Linked DNA regions of Homo sapiens. The protein of the gene in region 3 purifies or fractionates together with the protein of the main gene of each other region. This does not show direct contact. Each region holds a gene or a part of one and is shown on either strand. Other genes may lie near its edges. The genes, in order: GLG1, SERPINE2 and KLK2.

The links.
Region 1: the proteins of KLK2 (region 3) and GLG1 purify together in Homo sapiens (affinity purification with mass spectrometry; 2 studies listed by BioGRID and IntAct, with this or other methods). This does not show direct contact.
Region 2: the proteins of KLK2 (region 3) and SERPINE2 purify together in Homo sapiens (affinity purification with mass spectrometry; 3 studies listed by BioGRID and IntAct, with this or other methods). This does not show direct contact.

What each region holds. Positions count from the first base shown.
Region 1 is NC_000016.10:74,604,026-74,612,109, reverse strand, and holds the start of GLG1 (Golgi apparatus protein 1 isoform 3 precursor), read left to right. Parts: upstream 1-4,995; 5' UTR 4,996-5,015; coding exon 5,016-5,453; intron 5,454-8,084. UniProt on the Homo sapiens protein: Binds fibroblast growth factor and E-selectin (cell-adhesion lectin on endothelial cells mediating the binding of neutrophils).
Region 2 is NC_000002.12:224,029,201-224,036,302, forward strand, and holds part of SERPINE2 (glia-derived nexin isoform b precursor), read right to left. Parts: intron 2,279-7,102; exon of another isoform or gene 1,776-2,278; intron 1,008-1,775; exon of another isoform or gene 872-1,007; intron 1-871. UniProt on the Homo sapiens protein: Serine protease inhibitor with activity toward thrombin, trypsin, and urokinase. Promotes neurite extension by inhibiting thrombin. Binds heparin.
Region 3 is NC_000019.10:50,869,072-50,876,522, forward strand, and holds the start of KLK2 (kallikrein-2 isoform 1 preproprotein), read left to right. Parts: upstream 1-4,367; 5' UTR 4,368-4,402; coding exon 4,403-4,448; intron 4,449-5,649; coding exon 5,650-5,809; exon of another isoform or gene 5,810-5,895; intron 5,896-7,400; coding exon 7,401-7,451. UniProt on the Homo sapiens protein: Glandular kallikreins cleave Met-Lys and Arg-Ser bonds in kininogen to release Lys-bradykinin.

The DNA.
Region 1 (8,084 bases), on a different chromosome or scaffold from region 3:
CTCATGATAACTAATCACAAAAAAAAAATGTTCCATTGGGAGGATGGGGATTGGTGAAGATTAGAGCCACCATTACAGACCTAAAGAATGCAAATGTGGTTCTGAAAGATGGTGGAGAGTGAAAACTTTTCCAAACTAGTGGAAATGCTGGCTGTGCTCTTAGTCATTCCACTTTGTATGTAAGATGAGAATATATACAGATTCCTGGACAAAGTCCAATGGCCTGGCCTGGAGTAGAGGCATGTGGATGAACGTGTGGGGGTGAGTACAATATATAAAGATTTTTGTATCTCTTAATAATGCCCTCCAGAAAGCCTCCACCATAGAAGAGGCACTGAGCAACCAAGTAAGCAAAATGACACAGCCAATTCACATGAGCTAGCCTCTAGCTCCTCCTGACCCGACATTCTGGGCACGTGAACAGAGCAGCCATAGCAGCAGACATGCAGGTTCCATGTGAGCTCAGTAGCATGGACTCCCACTCACCAAGGTACATCCAGCTACTGCTGCCCCTGAATGTCCAACTTGTCAGCAACAGAGAGCAACACTGAGTCTTTTTTTTTTGGAGACAGAGTCTTGCTCTGTCGCCAGACTGGAGTGCCCTGGCGCAATCTCGGCTCACTGCAACCTCTGCCTCCTGGGTTCAAGCGATTCTCCTGCCTCAGCCTCCTGAGTAGCTGGGATTACAGGCGCACGCCACCACGCCCAGCTAATTTTTGTATTTTTAGTAGAGACGGGGTTTCACCGTGTTGGCCAGGATGGTCTCGATCTCTTGACCTTGTCATCTGCCCGCCTTGGCCTCCCAAAGGGCTGGGATTACAGGCGTGAGCCACTGCGCCCACCCTGCAACACTGAGTCTTTGATAGGCACTGTTTTTTTTTTTTTTTTTAGACCGAGTCTCGCTCTGTTGCCCAGGCTGGAGTGCAGCGGCGTGATCTCTGCTCGGAGCTGCAACCTCCACCTCCTGGGTTCAAGAAGTTCTCCTGCCTCAGCCTCCGAGTAGCTGGGATTACATCCATGAGCCACTGCGCCTGACCCCCTTTTTTTTTAAATTTTTTAATTTTTTTATTTTTCTGAGACAGGATCTCACTCTGTCACCCAGGCTGGAGTGCAGTGGCATAATCTCAGCTCACTGCAACCTCCACTTGCCGCTTTCAAGTGATCTTCCCGCGTAAGCCTCCTGAGTAACTGGGACTATAGGTTGCACCATTATGCCCAGCCAATTTTTGTATTTTTAGTAAAGGCCTGACCTCAGGTGATCCACCCGCCTCGGCCTCCCAAAGTGCTGGGATTACAGGTAGGTGTGAGCCACCATGCCTAGCAGGCCTTCATTTTGAATGCTTATTCCCACCTCCTTAGAATCTTGAACTAGTTATTAATGTCTGATTTTGGAACACTTAGAGTCCTCTTTTCATGGTTGCACTTGGGAGGCCGAGGCAGGCAATCACCTGAAGTCAGGAGTTCGAGACTAGCCTGGTCAACATGGTGAAATCTCTCTCTACTAAAAATACAAAAACTAGCTGGGCGTGGTGGCAGGCGCCTGTAATCCTAGTTACTTGGGGAGGCTGAGGCAGGAGAATCACTTGAACCCGGGAGGCAGAGGTTGCAGAGCTGAGATCATGCCATTGCACAGCAGCCTGGGCAACAAGAGTGAAACACTCCATCTCAAATAATAATAATAATAATAATAATAATAATAATAATAATAATAATAAAAGAACAAATTCTCAACAGCCCAGGTGCAGGGCTGACACCTGTAATCCCAGCACTTTGGGAAGCTGAGGTGGAAGGATCACTTGAGCTTGGGAGGCTGAGGATGCAGTGAACATGATCATGCCATTATATTGTAGTCTGGGTGACAGAACAAGACCCTGTCTCAAAAACAAAAAAAAATACTAAAATTACAAAAAAAAAATAATTAGCTGGGCGTGGTGGCACACACCGGTAGTCCCAGCTACTTAGGAGGCTGAGGCGGGAAGACTGCTTGAGCCCAGGAGGTTGGGGCTGCAGTGAGCCACAATTATCATGCCACTGCACTCTAGCCTGGGTGACAGAGGGAGACCCCGTCTGAAAACAAACAAGGAAAATGCTCATGGCTGGGCCCGGTGGCTTATCCCTGTAATCCCAACACTTTGGGAGGCCAAGGTAGGTGGATCCCTTGAGGTCAGGAATTCAAGATCAGCATGGCCAACATGGTGAAACCCCGTCTCTACTAAAAGTACAAAAACTAGCCGGTTGTGGTGGTGCACGCCTGTAATACCAGCTACTTGGGAGGCTACAGCAGGAGAATCGCTTGGACCCAGGAGGCGGAGGTTGCAGTGAGCTGAGATCACAACACTGCACTCCAGCCTGGGTGGCAGAGCAAGACTCCGTCTCAAAAAAAAAAAAAAAGAAAATGTTCAACAGATACCTGCTTGATGAATAAATTAAGAAAGTGAGGATCAGGAAACAAAGGATACAATAAAGGGTAAAAAGAACTCCCCGTTTCTTGGCTGGGCACAGTGGCTCATGCCTGTAATCCTAGCACTTTGGGAGGCCGAGGAGGATGGATCATAAGGTCAAGAGATTGAGACTCTCCTGGCCAACATGGTGAAATCCCGTCTCTAAAAATACAAAAATTAGCTGGGCATGGTGGCGCACACTTGTAGTCCCATCTACTTGGGAGGCTGAGGCAAGAGAATTGCTTGAATCCGGGAGGCAGAGGTTGCAGTGAGCCGAGATCGCGCCACTGCACTTCAGCCTGGCGACAGTGTGACTCCTCTCAAAAAAAAAAGAAAAAAGAATTCCCCGTTTCTGATAGAGATAGTATATGTTATATTGAAAAGGCAATGAGACCAGAAGACCTGAGTTAAGGCAACTGTCTTTCCGTGGGTTTGGGGGCTCGTGGCTTCCGTAAGGTCTACGCTTGCCTGACAGCCTGAGCTGGCCAGGTTCCCAGATTTATCTGTTTCTTGCTTCTTGGTGACTGAGATTTCAAGATAGCCATGTGTACTCCTCCCTATCTCTGGAGGCAATCTGTGGCTGTGGTTTCCTCAGTTCAGGCTGAAAGATAAGTAACTGATGGCTTATCTAGGATTGTCAATTTCTAGTTAAACTGGCTTAAAATAATCTCCCACTTGTCTGAACACATGCAGACTCAGCATTGAAAATTAATGGAGGCCAGGCGCAGTACCTCACGCCTGTAATCCTAGCACTTTGGGAGGCTGAGGTGGGCAGATCGCCTGAGGTTTGGGGTTCGAGACCAGCCTGGCCAACATGGCAAAACCCCGTCGCTACTAAAAATACAAAAATTAGCTGGGTGTGGTGGCACATGCCTGTAATCCCAGCCACTCGGAGGCTGAGGCAGGAGAACTGCTTGAACCCAGGAGGTGGAGGTGGCAGCTCCGAGCAGAGATCACGCCACTGCACTCCAGCCTGGGCAACAGAGTGAGATTCCGTCTCAAAAAAAAAAAAAAAAAATTAACATACGCTAGTGACATCTCAAGGACTTCTGGTGATGTGTCCAGCCTGCCTGACTGAAACTTACCTATGCCATGTGTTTGCTAATAAACATGGGGCTGCCTTAGTCAGTGCTCAAGGTTAGCAGCAGCCTCATGATCATTTTATGACAGTAGCAAAGGTGACCGTTGGTGGAGATGCCAACAAGCTCTCATTCCCCATGATAGAGGCCTGGGGTCAGCCACAGTGGGTAATTTGTACTCACAGAATATCTTCAGTCTCAGGAGCTCCTTTTGGGTTCCCTGAGCTCCTGACTTTTCAGGTTCTAGTTATGTCTAACTTGGTCTTGACTGCTCATTTGCGGGTCAGGACAGCAGAAGCTGTCTGTTTACTACAGTAGATGTAATTCGCATTTTTGGACACAATGACCAGTGGAGATTACACAACCCAAACTGCCCTCATTCCCCAACATGTGCATGGACAGAGTGGGATGAAAGTGCGCCAGGGTGGTGGGAAGCCCCAGGGATTCTGGTGGCTAGCCTAGCTGTCTACAGGATGGCAGAGTTCCTCTTGGGCAGCTCATTTAATCCCTCCACGCAGAACTGTTAACATCTCTGTGCCATTCTTCAGTTAAATGAGAACCTAACGCAGGCCTGATGCATGGCTCAGATTACACAGCGGATGTGAAGAGGCTTTGGGAACATATCCTCTCTCCTAAGGACAGGGAGGGGATGCTAGTGTGGGGTGCCTGCGGTGTTGCATGCAGGTCAATGAGAACAGTTACCGACACACAGACTTAACCCGAGTCCTCAAAGATGTGTTTTATTATTATTTTTTCATCCTTTAAACATGAATCTAAATGCTGGCTTAAAATCAGGATTCATGCATAAACGGCTTCCCAGTTTATTAACAATACTGGCTGTGACTTTTTGAGTTCAGTGTTGTGGGCCAGGCACTTAAATTATTATTTCGAATCTTGCCAATGGTACTTTACATTTGAGCTCTTGCGTACCCTGCCAGAGCAAGGATTATAACCTTAATTTTTTTTCTTACCCCAGAACTTATGCTCTTAACCCTATTCAATGCTGTCTCTCTCTTTGGCTAAGAAAGACTTCTGAGGCAGATGGAAGGAAGGAAGGAAGGAGGGAGCGATACAAGGAGAGGCTTTCCGATTCCGTAATACACCTGGTTGTGCAAAGTTCACCTCTACATATAAAGTTTTTGTTTTCCAAGTCATTGAACCGGCGACATATTCTACCGGCCATTTTGGTTGTGGCAACCCCAATTCCCTTGATTTTTTTTTTTGTGACAGCAAATGGAATTAGAGTAGGCCGCCCTGCCCGGGCTTTTTAAGAAACCCCAGCAACCCCCCCGGGTAAGGAGCGCCGCTCTCCCGCCCGCCGGTCCAGGGTGTGTGCGGTTTCCAGCACGGCCTCCTCCTTCGCCCCACTCTGGGTTCGCGGGTCGGCGCCGGCGGGGCGGGGCTCGGCAGGGCCACGCTGCCACGCCCAGCGTCTCCACCCCCTCATTTAAATACGCGGCGCCGGCGAGTGCGTCGAGCTCGCCGCGGACTCAAGATGGCGGCGTGTGGACGTGTACGGAGGATGTTCCGCTTGTCGGCGGCGCTGCATCTGCTGCTGCTATTCGCGGCCGGGGCCGAGAAACTCCCCGGCCAGGGCGTCCACAGCCAGGGCCAGGGTCCCGGGGCCAACTTTGTGTCCTTCGTAGGGCAGGCCGGAGGCGGCGGCCCGGCGGGTCAGCAGCTGCCCCAGCTGCCTCAGTCATCGCAGCTTCAGCAGCAACAGCAGCAGCAGCAACAGCAACAGCAGCCTCAGCCGCCGCAGCCGCCTTTCCCGGCGGGTGGGCCTCCGGCCCGGCGGGGAGGAGCGGGGGCTGGTGGGGGCTGGAAGCTGGCGGAGGAAGAGTCCTGCAGGGAGGACGTGACCCGCGTGTGCCCTAAGCACACCTGGAGCAACAACCTGGCGGTGCTCGAGTGCCTGCAGGATGTGAGGGAGGTGAGGAGGTGGGACGAAGCCGGGAGGGCCAGGCCTGGTGCGGGCCCGAGGGTGTTGCCGGCCTTGGAAGCCGCTGACGCCGGTCGGCTGCTTTCCTTGCTTCCTCTGTGCTGCACTCGCTCCTTCCCTCTTTGCTCCTCACTCCCAGGCGCTTTCAGGGAAAAGGATACCACTCCCACTCCTTCTTTCCCCCGCCCTTATTTCCCTCCCTGTTGCCGGGGTCTGGGACGAAAACCTGGGCTCCTGGCCGCAATCCGCCGAGGCCCAGAGCGTGTCTGTTCGCTCCTGTCTTTTGTGTGATGCTCTATGCAGAGTGTCTCCTCGCCGAAGATCAGTTTAGGATTTTGCCATCAGTTTCGACTAGGACAATTTGTGGCAAGCCATTTAAACATAAAAAAATGCCTGGCGTACTTAGGCTGTAAAGAATGATCTGTTTATTAGCAGTAGATGTAATTCGCAAATCCATATTTTTGGTGCTGAAATTAATGTATGCTTTGTTTTCTTCACTTCCTTTGGTCAGTTGTATTGAACCCCATGTTTAAGCTGTTAACTCCCAGTGACTTGGCGCCCCAAAGCTTGAAAAGTTGGGGAAGCGTTTGAAGCTGTGTTTGTGACTGGGTTATGGGATCTTGCCTTTCTGAGGTCTGAATGTGATTTTAACAGTATCTCTTAATGAAATCTACATTTGTCGTTGCTTGGTGTGATTCAGTTGAGTGACATTGATAATTTATAATCAAGTGACATTGATAATTTATAATCTAGGTTTAATGCTGCAGACCATAATGACAATTCTCAAAGTTTGGGAGCAAATCTGACAGTAGTAACTTTTTCCAGAGGTGTAGGTATATAAAATTAGCCCTAAAGGTGGACAAATAGAATGAAGCTACCACTTGATACTGTTTTTGGTTTTTTTTTTAAATATCAGATTTGTTTAAGGCGTTCAAGCTATAGCAAGACCACTTGCTTGTAGAAATTTGCTTCTCTTGGCATTTCCCCCCTTCATCTCGTGTTCTAGTATTCTATACAAAAGCAATTCAGATAGAGGAAAAGACATACATAAGCAGGAGACAGAAAGAAAGGAAGTTTCCAGAGCCCCTAGAAATGTGAGGCCTTACCTGACTTCTCATCTTCAGCTTAACGACTAGAGGGATAGTCCTCTGGTAGATACAGCTAATATTCCTAACTCTGTCGAACTTTTTGGAATTTTCTTTTCGCTCTTTGAGGACACATAATAGATGTCGTTTCATCAAACTAGGATCCTAATACTGGTGACCAAACAATTAGTAGTAGTTTGTGGTAGAAACAGCACATTATTAGGGAAAGTGGCAAAAAGTGGCCTATTCAAGGAGTGTATATATCCTTCATGTGTATTCCGGACATTTGGAAACCTCCACTTAAAGGAGGCAGTTTTATGCTCCAGAGGAGGAAAGGCGTCATATAAATTGGAAATGGGGGTTTTGGGGGGTTGGGGGGAGGTGGAGGGACCAAATTTCCAATTTAATGTTTTTTCCTCCAGTTTTTACATACAGAAATAATGAAGGAAGAGTACTGTGAACACCTATGTGTATTCTTCAGGAGGTGGAGTTATTTTTAAACTTCTTTTCTTTTTTTTGAGATGGAGTCTCACTCTGTCGCCAGGCTGGAGTGCAGTGGCTTGAACTTGGCTCACTGCAACCTCCACCTCCCGGCTTTAAGCAATTCTGCCTCAGCCACCTGAGTACCTGGGACTACAGGCGAGCGCCACCACGCCCAGCTAATTTTTGTATTTTTAGTAGAGACAGGGTTTCACCATGTTGGCCAGGATGGTCTCGATCTCCTGACCTTGTGATCTGCCAGCCTCGGGCTCCCAAAGTGCTGAGATTAGTGGTGTGAGCCACCACCCCCACCCTATTTTCTTTTTCTTTAAAGACAGCGAAAGGAAATTTCATTCTGCTTAGTCTGGGAGTTAATTAAATCTGATCTATGTGTTTGAAAGAGCATAACTTAAAGAAGTAAACTAGTTAGGCACATTTGAAGAAACATGTATAGAATATGTTTTGTATTTGCTGTTCAGTAAGTAGAACTATTTGATAGTGAAATAGATATATGTACTTTTCTGTCCCTTTGCATGCAAATGCAGGGAACATTTTCCTATCCGTACCCATTATTGGAATTATGAAAAGGCAGAGCATATGAGTACAGTTGTTCCTTGGTATCACTGGAGGATGGTTCCAGGCCTCCTGCAGATATTGAAATCCAAGGACGCTCAAGTACCTTATACCGTATAAAATGGTGTCGTATTTCCATATCATCTGTGCACACCCTTCCGAATTCTTGTCTTCTCTAAAATACTTGTGATACCTAGTACAGTGCCTACATATCAGTTCATTCATGTGGATTCACTGTAGTACTTGGCATATGTCAAACTTAACTTTTGCTTTTTGGAACCTTATGGAACTTTTCTTTCTGAAAAAAAATTTTTTATTATGGAGACAGGGTCTCGCTCTGTCATCCAGGCTGGAGTGCAGTGGTGCAGTCATAGCTCACTGCAGCCTCAGTCTTCTGGGTTTGAGAGTTCACTGAAGCCTCCACATTCCGGGTTCAAGTGATCTTCCCAGCTGGGCTTTCCAAAGTGCTGGGATTAGAGTTGTG
Region 2 (7,102 bases), on a different chromosome or scaffold from region 3:
ATACACATTTCAAACAGAAAAATCCACACCTTTAGAAAGAAAGCTCTCCCTTACAATTAAGTCATCACACAGATTCTCCCTGGCATCCCCTAATCTCACTGTTAGAGCAACAACTCAGGTGTGGGCATATACTCAGACTGCTGTATGAAGTCCAAAGTGGATAACTGCCAGTAAAATCCTTAAAAAAATCCTATCAATGGTAGCAGAAAACACATTTCCTATCTGGGAATGCTTGCTAAGGTTAACCCAACATTCTTAGAACTCTTTTGCATATTGACGGAATCAAATCATAATTAAATGACCATCACCATGTGCTTTAACAATATTCACCATATGTTTAAAATAGTTATTTCTTGGTATCTGGACATCACTGGACACAGTAGAATGATTTTTTCACAGTCAGAAAAACAAGAATGAAAAGAGAAGCCTCTGGATGCTACCCTTGCAGAGACCTAAATATTAAACCAAATAGATTATTTTTCCTACTGTATAGACATTTTTTGTTTTGTTTTATTTTGAGACAGAGCCTCCCTCTGTTACCCAGGCTGGAGTGCAGTGGCACAATTCTGCTTACTGCAACTTCCGCCTCCGGGGTTCAAGTGATTCTCATGCCTCAGCCTCCCAAGTAGCTGGGATTACGGGCGTGCGTCACCATGCCCAGCTAATTTTTTGCATTTTTAGTAGAGACAGGGTTTCACTATGTTCAGGCTGTTTTTGAATTCCGAGCCTCAAGTGATCTGCCCACCTCAGCCTCCCAAACTGCTGGGATTACAGGCGTGAGCCAGCATAGACATGTCTGGCCCTGCATAGACATTTATTCGTTATTCACAACTAACCTAATGGAAAAAAGCAGCCAGCATGACAGGGCTACCTGCAACGTGTTCCCTGGAAGACCTCTTGGTAACACTGCTGTTTACATCTCACAAATGCAAGGGTGGAGTCAGAAGGAGGTTATTTCATGCAACAGCCTTCCTTTGCTTCATGGCCAACGCACAAGAGCCTGAAGCCTGCGGGCAGGACAGATGACCAGGTGATCATTGGGGAGTACTGCCCACTGAGAGTGCAGCAGGAAAGGTGTCTGGAAACAAAGCATGCAAAGACACAGAGCAAGTCACTCATTCATCAGGCCAAAGACACGAGGAAGACATGAGTCTCAGAGAAGTGCTCACCTGTACTTCTGTGACAAATATTACCCAATGCCACAACCACAGCCACCTCGTGTCCCGAAAGTCAGCTCCATTCCTGCCACTGTGCTTAGCGCCTAAGATATACTCTTCGCTTCATCCTCACAACACTTCAGGGGTGGCCCTTAAGCCTAAACACCTTTAGGCCCAACTCACGGATGGGCTTGGAGATGTTTAGAAATTTGGCTTTGGCTCATACCCTCCAATATGTAGCCTCTAGATTCAAACCAAAGCCCGCTGGCCTCCAAATCCTCCACACTCTTAATTACTATACAGTGGAGGAAAAGGAGGAAACACATATTTTAAAATGACAAATTTTGAAATAAAGGTAACTATAAACCTTTGAAAAAGAAGTTAAATCGCAAACAGAGTTCAATTAGGCATGTTTGAAAAGTCATGGCACACTTGTTCTGTGATTCTGCTGAGTTTTATCCAGCTCAGCTTAAGTTATTCGCTTGGACTCTTGTGTAAATCTCTCTACCTTCTCAATCCAAAGGTCAGTACTAATTTTAGATTTCAGTCCCAGAAAAAAACAAGTGTCTGAGGAAGGAACTAGGGGGCCAAAGGCATAAAACCATGATTCAAACGTACCACACAGATACTGGCCTCTTTCTGTATCATGTGTTTTGGTTGTGATACTAGGGCTATCACGCAGCACGGCGAGGAGGTAGTCTTGAAAGGAGGAGTGTGCTTTGACACAAATTTCTTCTCAAGAAGGTATAAACATTGATGGGATGTAAATCTTTGAATATCCATGGTATCAGCTCACGGTTCACACATCTACAGACCCGGGTCCAGGCTCTGGCACTGACACATAAAGGCTGTGCGACCCTACATATTCACAGGGTGTGCCACTTTGGCATACAGGCTGTGTGACCCCCCACATACTGCGTGACCGTGGACCCTTTATCTCTGCCACACCCTTCCTTCCCAACTACATGAGTGGGAATGATATCAGCATCTAGCTGAGAGGCAGGCACGAGGCTCTAGGAGACCACATAGAGATTCCGTTGGGGGGAAAACAGAAAGAAAGGCAGCTGGGGAACGCCAGGCAGCACGGTCCTCTCCACTCCCTTTCCTCCTAACCAAGGATTGACCATGTGATTTGGGATTCAGCCAATCATAGAACCTCCCTCCTCCGCCCACAGCCATTGGTACACGGAAGGGCATGTGACCACGTGACCTAGCATCAGCCAATCACAGGACCTCACTCCTCTGCCCACAGCCATTGGTATCGGGACGAGCATGTGACCATGTGACTTAGCATCAGCCAATCATAGGACCTCACTCCTCTGCCCACAGCCATTGGTACAGCGAACAGCATGTGACTGAAACTAAGCCAATCAGAATTCCTCCCTAGGATTTCCACCCCCCACCCCCCCCGCCGGCTGGAACTGGCTGAAAAGCCCCTCTTTCCTCCTCACTGAGGAGGCTGTAGGGAGGTAAGCCTGGAGCTACCTACAGTCATGGTCCCGGAGAGGACAACCACAATCAGCAGACAGAAGCAGAGATGAGAGGCAAGGAGAAAGAGAAGAAAGCCTCCAAGTCCTCAGTCTTTGGTTCCAGTCATCTTCAGGGCCAGAGTCACCTCTCCCATGCTTGAGTGGGCAGTGTCAGCCAACAGCTCTCCGCCTTGTTTCCGAGTTATTTTGATTTGGGTTTGTTCTCTTGTAAGCAAAAGATAATGCAGTAGTTAATAGTTCCTATAATCTTAACAGTGACCAAATCCTCAGTAAGAATAACTTCTTGAGTGGATTTCTTATTTAAAAACTGCAGAAATAAATTTTAGTAGAGGAAGCAAACATTGCCTTTATTTACATAGCACTTTCCCCAAAGGAAGAAAGAAACATCCATTTTCATTTGTAGTCACCTTATTCATTTCCGAGTGGGCTTTGTATTTGGCATTAAACTCTTTCACATACCCACATCCACCTTCAAGATTTGGCCCATAAAAACTTAGGATAAAAACAAGTGGTTATTTTTTCTATAGCTATATTTGCTGGAACTACATGGAGGGCGAAAGTTGGGGTAGGGGTAAGAGAAGGCACTGATGCTATTTTTGGTATGCTCTCAAGAGAAATTCCCCAGGTTACGAGTTCACACTAGGGGTTGGGGGTGGGGCACGGTTTACAAAAACAAAGTGCATTTACCAAGATTTGCAGCCGTAACAGGAAATCCTTTCTGACTCTTGATGGGATTTTTTCTTTTATATTAAAGTCTCCTCATATTATTCTTCAAAGAATTAAATAAGAAAAATGGAAAGGCACAATGGATGTAAATTCCAATTCTCAAATGATCTTCTGAAGCAAAGGATAATGTCTTACGTCAAACTGTGGCAAAAGCCTGGGTGTTCCTGATCTAATCTTGAACTAGGGTGTCCACCCCAACCTTTGGAGGAATCCTAGGACATGTTTGCCAAAACATACGAGTGGAATTACAAATAGAGGATTGCTTGGGCTCAGTGGCCATCCTCATGCACAGAAAGAATCCCAGAAGGGATGCCGACTTCCCTGGACTGGGCTTACATCCAGACCTAGAAATCTAACAGCAGAATAAAGGCAAGACTCACTGACTGTAGAAATAGACTTGGCCTGTTGGATGGGAGGTGGTATTTCTCAAAAGAGAAATAAAATCATACTAATCTCTCAGTATTCTTAAATTGGGAACTTGCAGACAAGAGATAACCTAAAGATGTAGTTTATTGCATTTGACTCCATTCTGTATCTAAGGGTATTTTTTAAAAACCCAACATTGGTTTTCAGATTAGGCGTGCAATCTACTCATGAGGAAAGATGGTTTGCAAAGAGAAGATGGGCACATTTATGTGTGGAGAACAGGTTGACAAGATTCAAGTATATGGGACCTAATTTATTTAAAATTTTTATAAATGCTCTAAGTGGGAATACAAACTAAATCTTCATGTTGGCCCATGATGCTGTTTCTGAATATAATGCTGAATGATTTTATAGGCTTAAAAAAGTGAGAGACAAGAACTTTAAGGTGTATGAGCACAGGATAATGCATTTACGAAAAAATTTTATCTAGACTTAACACTTATGAGAAAGCCACATCAAAAGGAAACTGAGCCAAGAATTTATAGGTTTTAAAAATAAGACACCTTTTAGATCATTTATTTCAATATACCCATTATACAGACAAGGAAACTGAGTTCTAGATGGTAACCTACACGCTCTATTGGTGGTGCAGCCCATACCCTCTCCCAGCCTGCTCTTTCCACCAAATGTGACTGACGATACCAGCCAAAAAAGTTCCATGGCAAAAAAAAAAAAAAAGTCACCAAGAGGTCATATATCACCATCACCAAAGTTAATAGAAATAAACCAAAATGCATTCTCCTACCCTGTAAAACCACGAAATGCAGAGTGCAGCCCAGCCAACAGACCTCAAGGAGGGCAGAACCATGCCAAAGGGAGGTTCAGATGAGGATAACTGAAGTGAACACAGGCACACAAGTGCTTCTGTATTAGACTTCCGCTTTTCTCTAAGTAATGTTTTATCTCAAAAGACAAGGTTAATCAAAAATTTAAAATGTCTGAGGATATATATTAAATTTGCTAGTACCAAAATGAGGGCTGGAGGTCTGGCAGAGAGAGCTCCCCTTTGAGTCTGGAATACAAACACTCTTCCATAAAGCATGCAGTAAACTTACAAAAAATATGAATATGGTTTAGTTCAGACATCTGTTAATTGCCTTTGGGCCACACACCACCGCTGGTGCAAATAAAACTAAAACACAGGCACGTCTTTCTGGAGCTTAGAGTCTACTGGATAGGGCATGTTGCTACAACACAAAAAACTGCCATCATTGAGGTAGGCACGGGGAGGGGTGACGTGTGTGTACACTGCACATGTGCCACAGAGGGCTGGGGTGGTGACTGCCAGCAAGGCCTTTTTGAGCCTGAGTCTTGAAAAAGGAGAAATCAGCCAGACAATGAACACAGGAGGAGAAAGGGAATTCCAGGCAGAGGTACAGAAGGAGCAAAGGCAGAAAAGCACTGGGCGGTACCAGTGCAGTTTACGGGAGGTTCAGTTTTGCAAGAAAAGAATGTTTCAGGCAGGGGACAAGGCAAGGAGATGGGAAGGGAGTGAAGAAAGCTTTGACTCTGTTGGGTCATTACAAATGGCCAGCAGCCTGGTGAGCCCATGGAGCACTGTGGAAAGTTCCCTGGCTGCATGCTGACAGGAACTGAGTTCTGGGTCAAGACTCTGCCCTAAGGTGTCTAAATGACCTCAGGAACACACTGTATGACTCTGGATACCACATGTAAAACAAGGTTCCCCATGTTCCAAGGGTGGGGGACTCCCTGGGATGGCCTATGCCTCCATATTTACAGACTCCCCACTGCTGTTTGGGATATAGAATCGACCCTGCCCTATCTCCACCCAGGGGGGCTGCGAGGAAGTGGGGCAGTAGTCAGGCTTGTAGAAATGCTTTGTAAACAGCAGGACTGTCATCAACACTAGAACTCTGTATTAACTACCCTACAGAAGCTCAAAAGCATCTTCAGAAACTCGGGTACAACACTGTATAAAGATAGCGGAGAGCTCATCTTTCAATCTTGAGATACCAAACTTGTGATATGACATGGCCACTCCTTTAGAGTCAGGGATTTAAGCCCAGATCAAGAGGGAGCCATTGAATTTTATTAGGAGGGACCCAAGAAGACTTGGATTTGGGGCAGCAGGAGGAAAGTCACACCAGCAATAACATGGAAGAGAGTTAGAAGGGATGCAACATGAGGTGCACGACACTGTGCAGTAAGCACTAGGCATTCCCAGGCTGTCGATGATCGTCTCAGCCTAGGGTCTCTAGCTCTGAAGCCCATGGGAGCCAGAACGCCACTATAAGCAAGGGTCACAGGTCTGGGGGAACCAGAAAGCAACCTACCTCCAGTGTATTCAGGCACTGGAAACCCAGCAGCAGCTGAGGTTTGCCACATGGGAATGTAAGCTTCCTATTCCAGGTTTTTTTTGTTTTGTTTTTGTTTTTGTTTTGAGACAGAGTCTCACTCTTTCACCCAGGCTCGAGAACAGTGGCGCCATCTCAGCTCACTGCAACCTCTGCCTCCCGGGTTCAAGCGATTCTCCTGCCTCAGCCTCCCGAGTAGCTGGGATTATAGGCGCAGCTAATTTTTGTATTTTTAGTAGAGACGCGGTTTTACCATGTTGATCAGGCTGGTCTTGAACTCCTGACCTCAAGTGATCCGCCTGGTTCAGCCTCCCACAGTGCTGGGATTACAGGTATGAGCCACCACGCACTGCCTCATCCAGGTCTTCTGGCTTTTAGGAGAAGCTATACATCCAAGTGGCATCTCCAGATTTCTAAATATTAACTCAAGTTGTATATACTTTGTTCAGGCCAACAACACTGCTGCCTACTGCTAGAAGTGGCACACCGGCCACCATTTTGCCACTTTTGGGCTCTAAAGCAAGGCAAGGCCAGCGTGACTAGAGCGGACCTTTGTGGAATTTCACAGCATGAAGAAGCAACAGGATCTGGTGACAGCCTGCATGTGGGCAGTGCGGGAGCCTGGCATCACCGTGAGACCCCTGCTCCAACATCTCCATGAACGGTGGAACCACTGCCAAAAAAAAACGGACAAATCTTCGCTAACAATGAAGCGGATATGGGGTGGGTGGTGAAAACTAAAATCAATTTTGGATTTATTTTGGGGTGTTTTTTTGGCCTAAAGGGCACGGGTAAGCGCACCAGACTGCAGGTAACTGATTGGAACACAGGAGCATGCTCAAGCTAGCTTAACATGCCAATCTGGGACTCGCTTCATATTGGTGAGAGTCGAAGCTGTGGGAACATGGTTCACCCAAATACACAGAGCACAAAAGGGATGACAGCGAACCCTGGGTAACCCCAAGAGGTAGCAGAGATGCCAGGGAGG
Region 3 (7,451 bases):
GATCTTGACTTTGAGGTTATCTCAGACTTCCTCTATGATACCAGGAGCCCATCATAATCTCTCTGTGCCCTCTCCCCTTCCTCAGTCTTACTGCCCACTCTTCCCAGCTCCATCTCCAGCTGGCCAGGTGTAGCCACAGTACCTAACTCTTTGCAGAGAACTATAAATGTGTATCCTACAGGGGAGAAAAAAAAAAGAACTCTGAAAGAGCTGACATTTTACCGACTTGCAAACACATAAGCTAACCTGCCAGTTTTGTGCTGGTAGAACTCATGAGACTCCTGGGTCAGAGGCAAAAGATTTTATTACCCACAGCTAAGGAGGCAGCATGAACTTTGTGTTCACATTTGTTCACTTTGCCCCCCAATTCATATGGGATGATCAGAGCAGTTCAGGTGGATGGACACAGGGGTTTGTGGCAAAGGTGAGCAACCTAGGCTTAGAAATCCTCAATCTTATAAGAAGGTACCAGCAAACTTGTCCAGTCTTTGTATCTGACGGAGATATTATCTTTATAATTGGGTTGAAAGCAGACCTACTCTGGAGGAACATATTGTATTTATTGTCCTGAACAGTAAACAAATCTGCTGTAAAATAGACGTTAACTTTATTATCTAAGGCAGTAAGCAAACCTAGATCTGAAGGCGATACCATCTTGCAAGGCTATCTGCTGTACAAATATGCTTGAAAAGATGGTCCAGAAAAGAAAACGGTATTATTGCCTTTGCTCAGAAGACACACAGAAACATAAGAGAACCATGGAAAATTGTCTCCCAACACTGTTCACCCAGAGCCTTCCACTCTTGTCTGCAGGACAGTCTTAACATCCCATCATTAGTGTGTCTACCACATCTGGCTTCACTGTGCCTAACCAAGATTTCTAGGTCCAGTTCCCCACCATGTTTGGCAGTGCCCCACTGCCAACCCCAGAATAAGGGAGTGCTCAGAATTTCGAGGGGACATGGGTGGGGATCAGAACTTCTGGGCTTGAGTGCAGAGGGGGCCCATACTCCTTGGTTCCGAAGGAGGAAGAGGCTGGAGGTGAATGTCCTTGGAGAGGAGGAATGTGGGTTCTGAACTCTTAAATCCCCAAGGGAGGAGACTGGTAAGGTCCCAGCTTCCGAGGTACTGACGTGGGAATGGCCTGAGAGGTCTAAGAATCCCGTATCCTCGGGAAGAAGGGGCTGAAATTGTGAGGGGTTGAGTTGCAGGGGTTTGTTAGCTTGAGACTCCTTGGTGGGTCCCTGGGAAGCAAGGACTGGAACCATTGGCTCCAGGGTTTGGTGTGAAGGTAATGGAATCTCCTGATTCTCAAAGGGTCAGAGGACTGAGAGTTGCCCATGCTTTGATCTTTCCATCTACTCCTTACTCCACTTGAGGGTAATCACCTACTCTTCTAGTTCCACAAGAGTGCGCCTGCGCGAGTATAATCTGCACATGTGCCATGTCCCGAGGCCTGGGGCATCATCCACTCATCATTCAGCATCTGCACTATGCGGGCGAGGCCGGCGCCATGACGTCATGTAGCTGCGACTATCCCTGCAGCGCGCCTCTCCCGTCACGTCCCAACCATGGAGCTGTGGACGTGCGTCCCCTGGTGGATGTGGCCTGCGTGGTGCCAGGCCGGGGCCTGGTGTCCGATAAAGATCCTAGAACCACAGGAAACCAGGACTGAAAGGTGCTAGAGAATGGCCATATGTCGCTGTCCATGAAATCTCAAGGACTTCTGGGTGGAGGGCACAGGAGCCTGAACTTACGGGTTTGCCCCACTCCACTGTCCTCCCAAGTGAGTCTCCCAGATACGAGGCACTGTGCCAGCATCAGCTTCATCTGTACCACATCTTGTAACAGGGACTACCCAGGGCCCTGATGAACACCATGGTGTGTGCAGGAAGAGCGGGTGAAGGCACGGACTCCTGTGTGGTCAGAGCCCAGAGGGGGCCATGACGGGTGGGGAGGAGGCTGTGGACTGGCTCGAGAAGTGGGATGTGGTTGTGTTTGATCTCCTTTGGCCAGATAAAGTGCTGGATATAGCATTGAAAACGGAGTATGAAGACCAGTTAGAATGGAGGGTCAGGTTGGAGTTGAGTTACAGATGGGGTAAAATTCTGCTTCGGATGAGTTTGGGGATTGGCAATTTAAAGGTGGTTTGGGATGGCATGGCTTTGGGATGGAAATAGGTTTGTTTTTATGTTGGCTGGGAAGGGTGTGGGGATTGAATTGGGGATGAAGTAGGTTTAGTTTTGGAGATAGAATACATGGAGCTGGCTATTGCATGCGAGGATGTGCATTAGTTTGGTTTGATCTTTAAATGAAGGAGGCTATTAGGGTTGTCTTGAATTAGATTAAGTTGTGTTGGGTTGATGGGTTGGGCTTGTGGGTGATGTGGTTGGATTGGGCTGTGTTAAATTGGTTTGGGTCAGGTTTTGGTTGAGGTTATCATGGGGATGAGGATATGCTTGGGACACTGGATTCAGGTGGTTCTCATTCAAGCTGAGGCAAATTTCCTTTCAGACGGTCATTCCAGGGAACGAGTGGTTGTGTGGGGGAAATCAGGCCACTGGCTGTGAATATCCCTCTATCCTGGTCTTGAATTGTGATTATCTATGTCCACTTCTGTCTCCTTCACTGTACTTGGAATTGATCTGGTCATTCAGCTGGAAATGGGGGAAGATTTTGTCAAATTCTTGAGACACAGCTGGGTCTGGATCAGCGTAAGCTGCTCTGGTTTTATTGAACAGATGAAATCACATTTTTTTTTTCAAAATCAAAGAAATCTTATAGAGTTAACAGTGGACTCTTATAATAAGAGTTAACACCAGGACTCTTATTCTTGATTCTTTTCTGAGACACCAAAATGAGATTTCTCAATGCCACCCTAATTCTTTTTTTTTTTTTTTTTTTTTTTGAGACACAGTCTGGGTCTTTTGCTCTGTCACTCAGGCTGGAGCGCAGTGGTGTGATCATAGCTCACTGAACCCTTGACCTCCTGGACTTAAGGGATCCTCCTGCTTCAGCCTCCTGAGTAGATGGGGCTACAGGTGCTTGCCACCACACCTGGCTAATTAAATTTTTTTTTTTTTTTTGTAGAGAAAGGGTCTCACTTTGTTGCCCTGGCTGATCTTGAACTTCTGACTTCAAGTGATTCTTCAGCCTTGGACTCCCAAAGCACTGGGATTGCTGGCATGAGCCACTCACCGTGCCTGGCTTGCAGCTTAATCTTGGAGTGTATAAACCTGGCTCCTGATAGCTAGACATTTCAGTGAGAAGGAGGCATTGGATTTTGCATGAGGACAATTCTGACCTAGGAGGGCAGGTCAACAGGAATCCCCGCTGTACCTGTACGTTGTACAGGCATGGAGAATGAGGAGTGAGGAGCCACCGGAACCCCATATTGTTTAGTGGACATTGGATTTTGAAATAATAGGGAACTTGGTCTGGGAGAGTCATATTTCTGGATTGGACAATATGTGGTATCACAAGGTTTTATGATGAGGGAGAAATGTATGTGGGGAACCATTTTCTGAGTGTGGAAGTGCAAGAATCAGAGAGTACTGAATGCCAACGCTTCTATTTCAGGAACATGGTAAGTTGGAGGTCCAGCTTCTGGGCTCAGACGGGTATAGGGACCAGGAAGTCTCACAATCCGATCATTCTGATATTTCAGGGCATATTAGGTTTGGGGTGCAAAGGAAGTACTTGGGACTTAGGCACATGAGACTTTGTATTGAAAATCAATGATTGGGGCTGGCCGTGGTGGCTCACGCCTGTAATCTCATCACTTTGGGAGACCGAAGTGGGAGGATGGCTTGAGCCCAGGAGTTGGAGACCAGCCTAGGCAACATAGCCAGACCCTCTCTCTACAAAAAAATTAAAAATTAGCTGGATGTGGTGGTGCATGCTTGTGGTCTCAGCTATCCTGGAGGCTGAGACAGGAGAATCGGTTGAGTCTGGGAGTTCAAGGCTACAGGGAGCTGCGATCACGCCGCTGCACTCCAGCCTGGGAAACAGAGTGAGACTGTCTCAGAATTTTTTTAAAAAAGAATCAGTGATCATCCCAACCCCTGTTGCTGTTCATCCTGAGCCTGCCTTCTCTGGCTTTGTTCCCTAGATCACATCTCCATGATCCATAGGCCCTGCCCAATCTGACCTCACACCGTGGGAATGCCTCCAGACTGATCTAGTATGTGTGGAACAGCAAGTGCTGGCTCTCCCTCCCCTTCCACAGCTCTGGGTGTGGGAGGGGGTTGTCCAGCCTCCAGCAGCATGGGGAGGGCCTTGGTCAGCATCTAGGTGCCAACAGGGCAAGGGCGGGGTCCTGGAGAATGAAGGCTTTATAGGGCTCCTCAGGGAGGCCCCCCAGCCCCAAACTCACCACCTGGCCGTGGACACCTGTGTCAGCATGTGGGACCTGGTTCTCTCCATCGCCTTGTCTGTGGGGTGCACTGGTGAGATTGGGGGGATAAAGGAAGGGGGGCGGGTTCTGACTCTTATGCTGAAGCCCTTTTCCTCCCACCCAGTGCCCCAGCCTCGTCCCTTCAGCCCACAGTTCAGCCCAGACAATGTGCCCCTGACTCTTCCACATTGCAATAGTCCTCATGCCCACACTAGGTCCCCGCTCCCTCCCACTTACCTCAGACCTTTCTCTCCATTGCCCAGCCAAATCCCTGCTCCCAGCTGCTTTACTAAAGAGCAAGTTCCTGGGCATCTCTGTGTTTCTCTTTATGGGGTTCAAAACCTTTCAAGGACCTCTCTCCATGCCACTGGTTCCTTGGACCCTATCACTGGGCTGCCTCCTGAGCCCCTCAGTCCTACCACAGTCTACTGACTTTTCCTATTCAGCTGTGAGCATTCAACCCTGTCCCCTGGACCTTGACACCTGGCTCCCCAACCCTGTCCCAGGAAACCCAGATTCCACCAGACACTTCCTTCTTCCCCCCGAGGCTATCTGGCCTGAGACAACAAATGCTGCCTCCCACCCTGAGTCTGGCACTGGGACTTTCAGAACTCCTCCTTCCCTGACTCTTTGCCCCAGACCCGTCATTCAATGGCTAGCTTTTTCCATGGGAAAAACACGAGCACCCCCAACCACAACGGCCAGTTCTCTGATTCCCTAAATCCGCACCCTTTTCAAAACCTCAAAAACAAAACAAAACAAAACAAAGCAAGAAACAACTCAGGCAGAACTGTTTGCTTAACCTTGGACATGGTAAACCATCCAAAACCTTCCTCTCCCAGCAACTAAACCTCTCCACTGGGCACTTATCCTTGGTTTCTGGAACCTCTTATTCTCTTAGAACCCACAGCTGCCACCACAGTGTCCCTTCTCCCAGTGTAAGACCCCAAATCACTCCAAATGACCCAACCCCCAACCCGATGCCTGCTTCAGATGTTTCCCATGTCCCCTACTCTGATCTCTGGGGTCAGCTCCGTTCTCAGAGCATGAAGCCTCCCGACCTGGTCCAGCCACCAACCCGCTAACGCAGGGAATAGCTACAGAATTGCCAGCCCTCCCAGGACCCCTTGCTTGTGTCCTGGACTCCCAGTCCTGGTCCTCTGCCCCCATGTCTCTTCAAACCCACAGCTCAGCTCCCTCCCCTATCCAATTCTTTTGGGTCTGATCCCCCTGACCCAGCACCCCCTCCGCAGGTGCCGTGCCCCTCATCCAGTCTCGGATTGTGGGAGGCTGGGAGTGTGAGAAGCATTCCCAACCCTGGCAGGTGGCTGTGTACAGTCATGGATGGGCACACTGTGGGGGTGTCCTGGTGCACCCCCAGTGGGTGCTCACAGCTGCCCATTGCCTAAAGAAGTAAGTAGGACCCTGGGATCTGGGGAGGGAATGGCTGTGTCCCACAGGAATAACAGCGGGATGCTTCCCCCAGGGTCACTTCTCAGGTGAGGCTTCAGACTAAAGGAGAGAGGGAAGGTCCTGGCCCAGGTCGCACCCGGAGGCAGAGCTGGGGCTGGACCACTCTCCCCATGGCTGCCTGGGTTTCTCTCTGTGTCTGATCTCGCTGTGTCTCTTGGTATCTGGCTCTGGTTGTGTCTGTATGACTGTGTTTTGGTCTCTATGTCCCTCTCTCTTTTCTGTCTCCCTGTGTCTGTGTCTCCCCCGTCTCTGTCTCTGGGTCTCTCTGTGGCCATCTCTGTCACCGTGTGTCTCACCCTGCATCTCTTTGCCTGTCTTTCTCTCTGGGTCTCTGCCTCAGCCCTTCCTCATCACTACTGAACACACCCCGTGAGGGTGGGTGGGGAGCACCCAGAAAAAGGAAGGACTTTAAGCTCAATGTGTGTGCATGTGAGGGGGTGCCTGTCATTGCACAGCACTCTCTGCAGGACATCCCTCCACCCTGGGGAGACACAGGGAGGGCTGGTTTCAGCTGTAGCTGGGTGCACAATTGAGGAGGGAGGAAGGAGAAGGGGAAACAAGAAAGGAGGGGAAGGTGGCCGGGCACGGTGGCCCACGCCTGTAATCCCAGCACTTTGGGAGGCCGAGGTGGGTGGATCATCTGAGGTCAGGAGTTTGAAACCAGCCTGGCCAACATGGCAAAACCCCGTCTCTACTAAAAATACAAAAAGTAGCCAGGCGTGGTGCTGCGCGCCTGTAATCCCAATTACTAGGGAGGCTGAGGCAGGAGAATCGCTTGAACCCGGGAGGGAGAGGTTGCAGTGAGCCGAGATCGTGCCACTGCACTCCAGCCTGGGTGACAGAGCAAGACTCCATCTCAGAAAAAACAAACAAACAAACAAACAACAAAAAAAATCGAAAGGAGGGGAAGGGAGCTGGAGAGAGAAAGGGGGACGTGGCCCTGAGCTGTGGGCCGGGCCACCCGCCACTACAGAGCCCTCACTCCAGCCCCAGCTGCAGGTGAGCCACCCTCATGCCTCTCCTCCTCCCCCTGCTACTCCACACTCCTCAGATGCCCCCGTGGCCTCCCTCCTTTTTCTCTCCCACACTGTATCACCCCTGGCTTCCTCTCTGCTGTTTCTCCTTCTCTCTCTGACTTCCCGCATCCTTTTCTCATTTGTCTATTTCTCACTCCCTTCCTGGTTCTGTTCTTTCTCCCTTCCTCTTCCCCATGTCTATTTCTTGCTGTCTCTGTCTCTTCTTTGCTCATCCTAATTCTCACTGTTCTCCCTTCTGTTTTTGTCATTCCTCTGCCATTTTATGCTCTCTCTTTTCCACTTCGTTTCTTTCAGTTTCTGTCTCTGCCTCTCACATGATCACACTCCTGTTTTCTAACTCACTGTCTGTATTTCACCACGACTATATCTCCCCGACCCCTGTGCTTTTCTCACTGTTTCTTTTTCTTCCCTTTGGAGTCTCCCTTATCCTCCCCTGCCCCATCTACCTTTCCCCATTTTCTCTCTCCTCATGCATCCACCCCCTTCCTCCCCAGGAATAGCCAGGTCTGGCTGGGTCGGCACAACCTGTTTGAGCCTGAAGACAC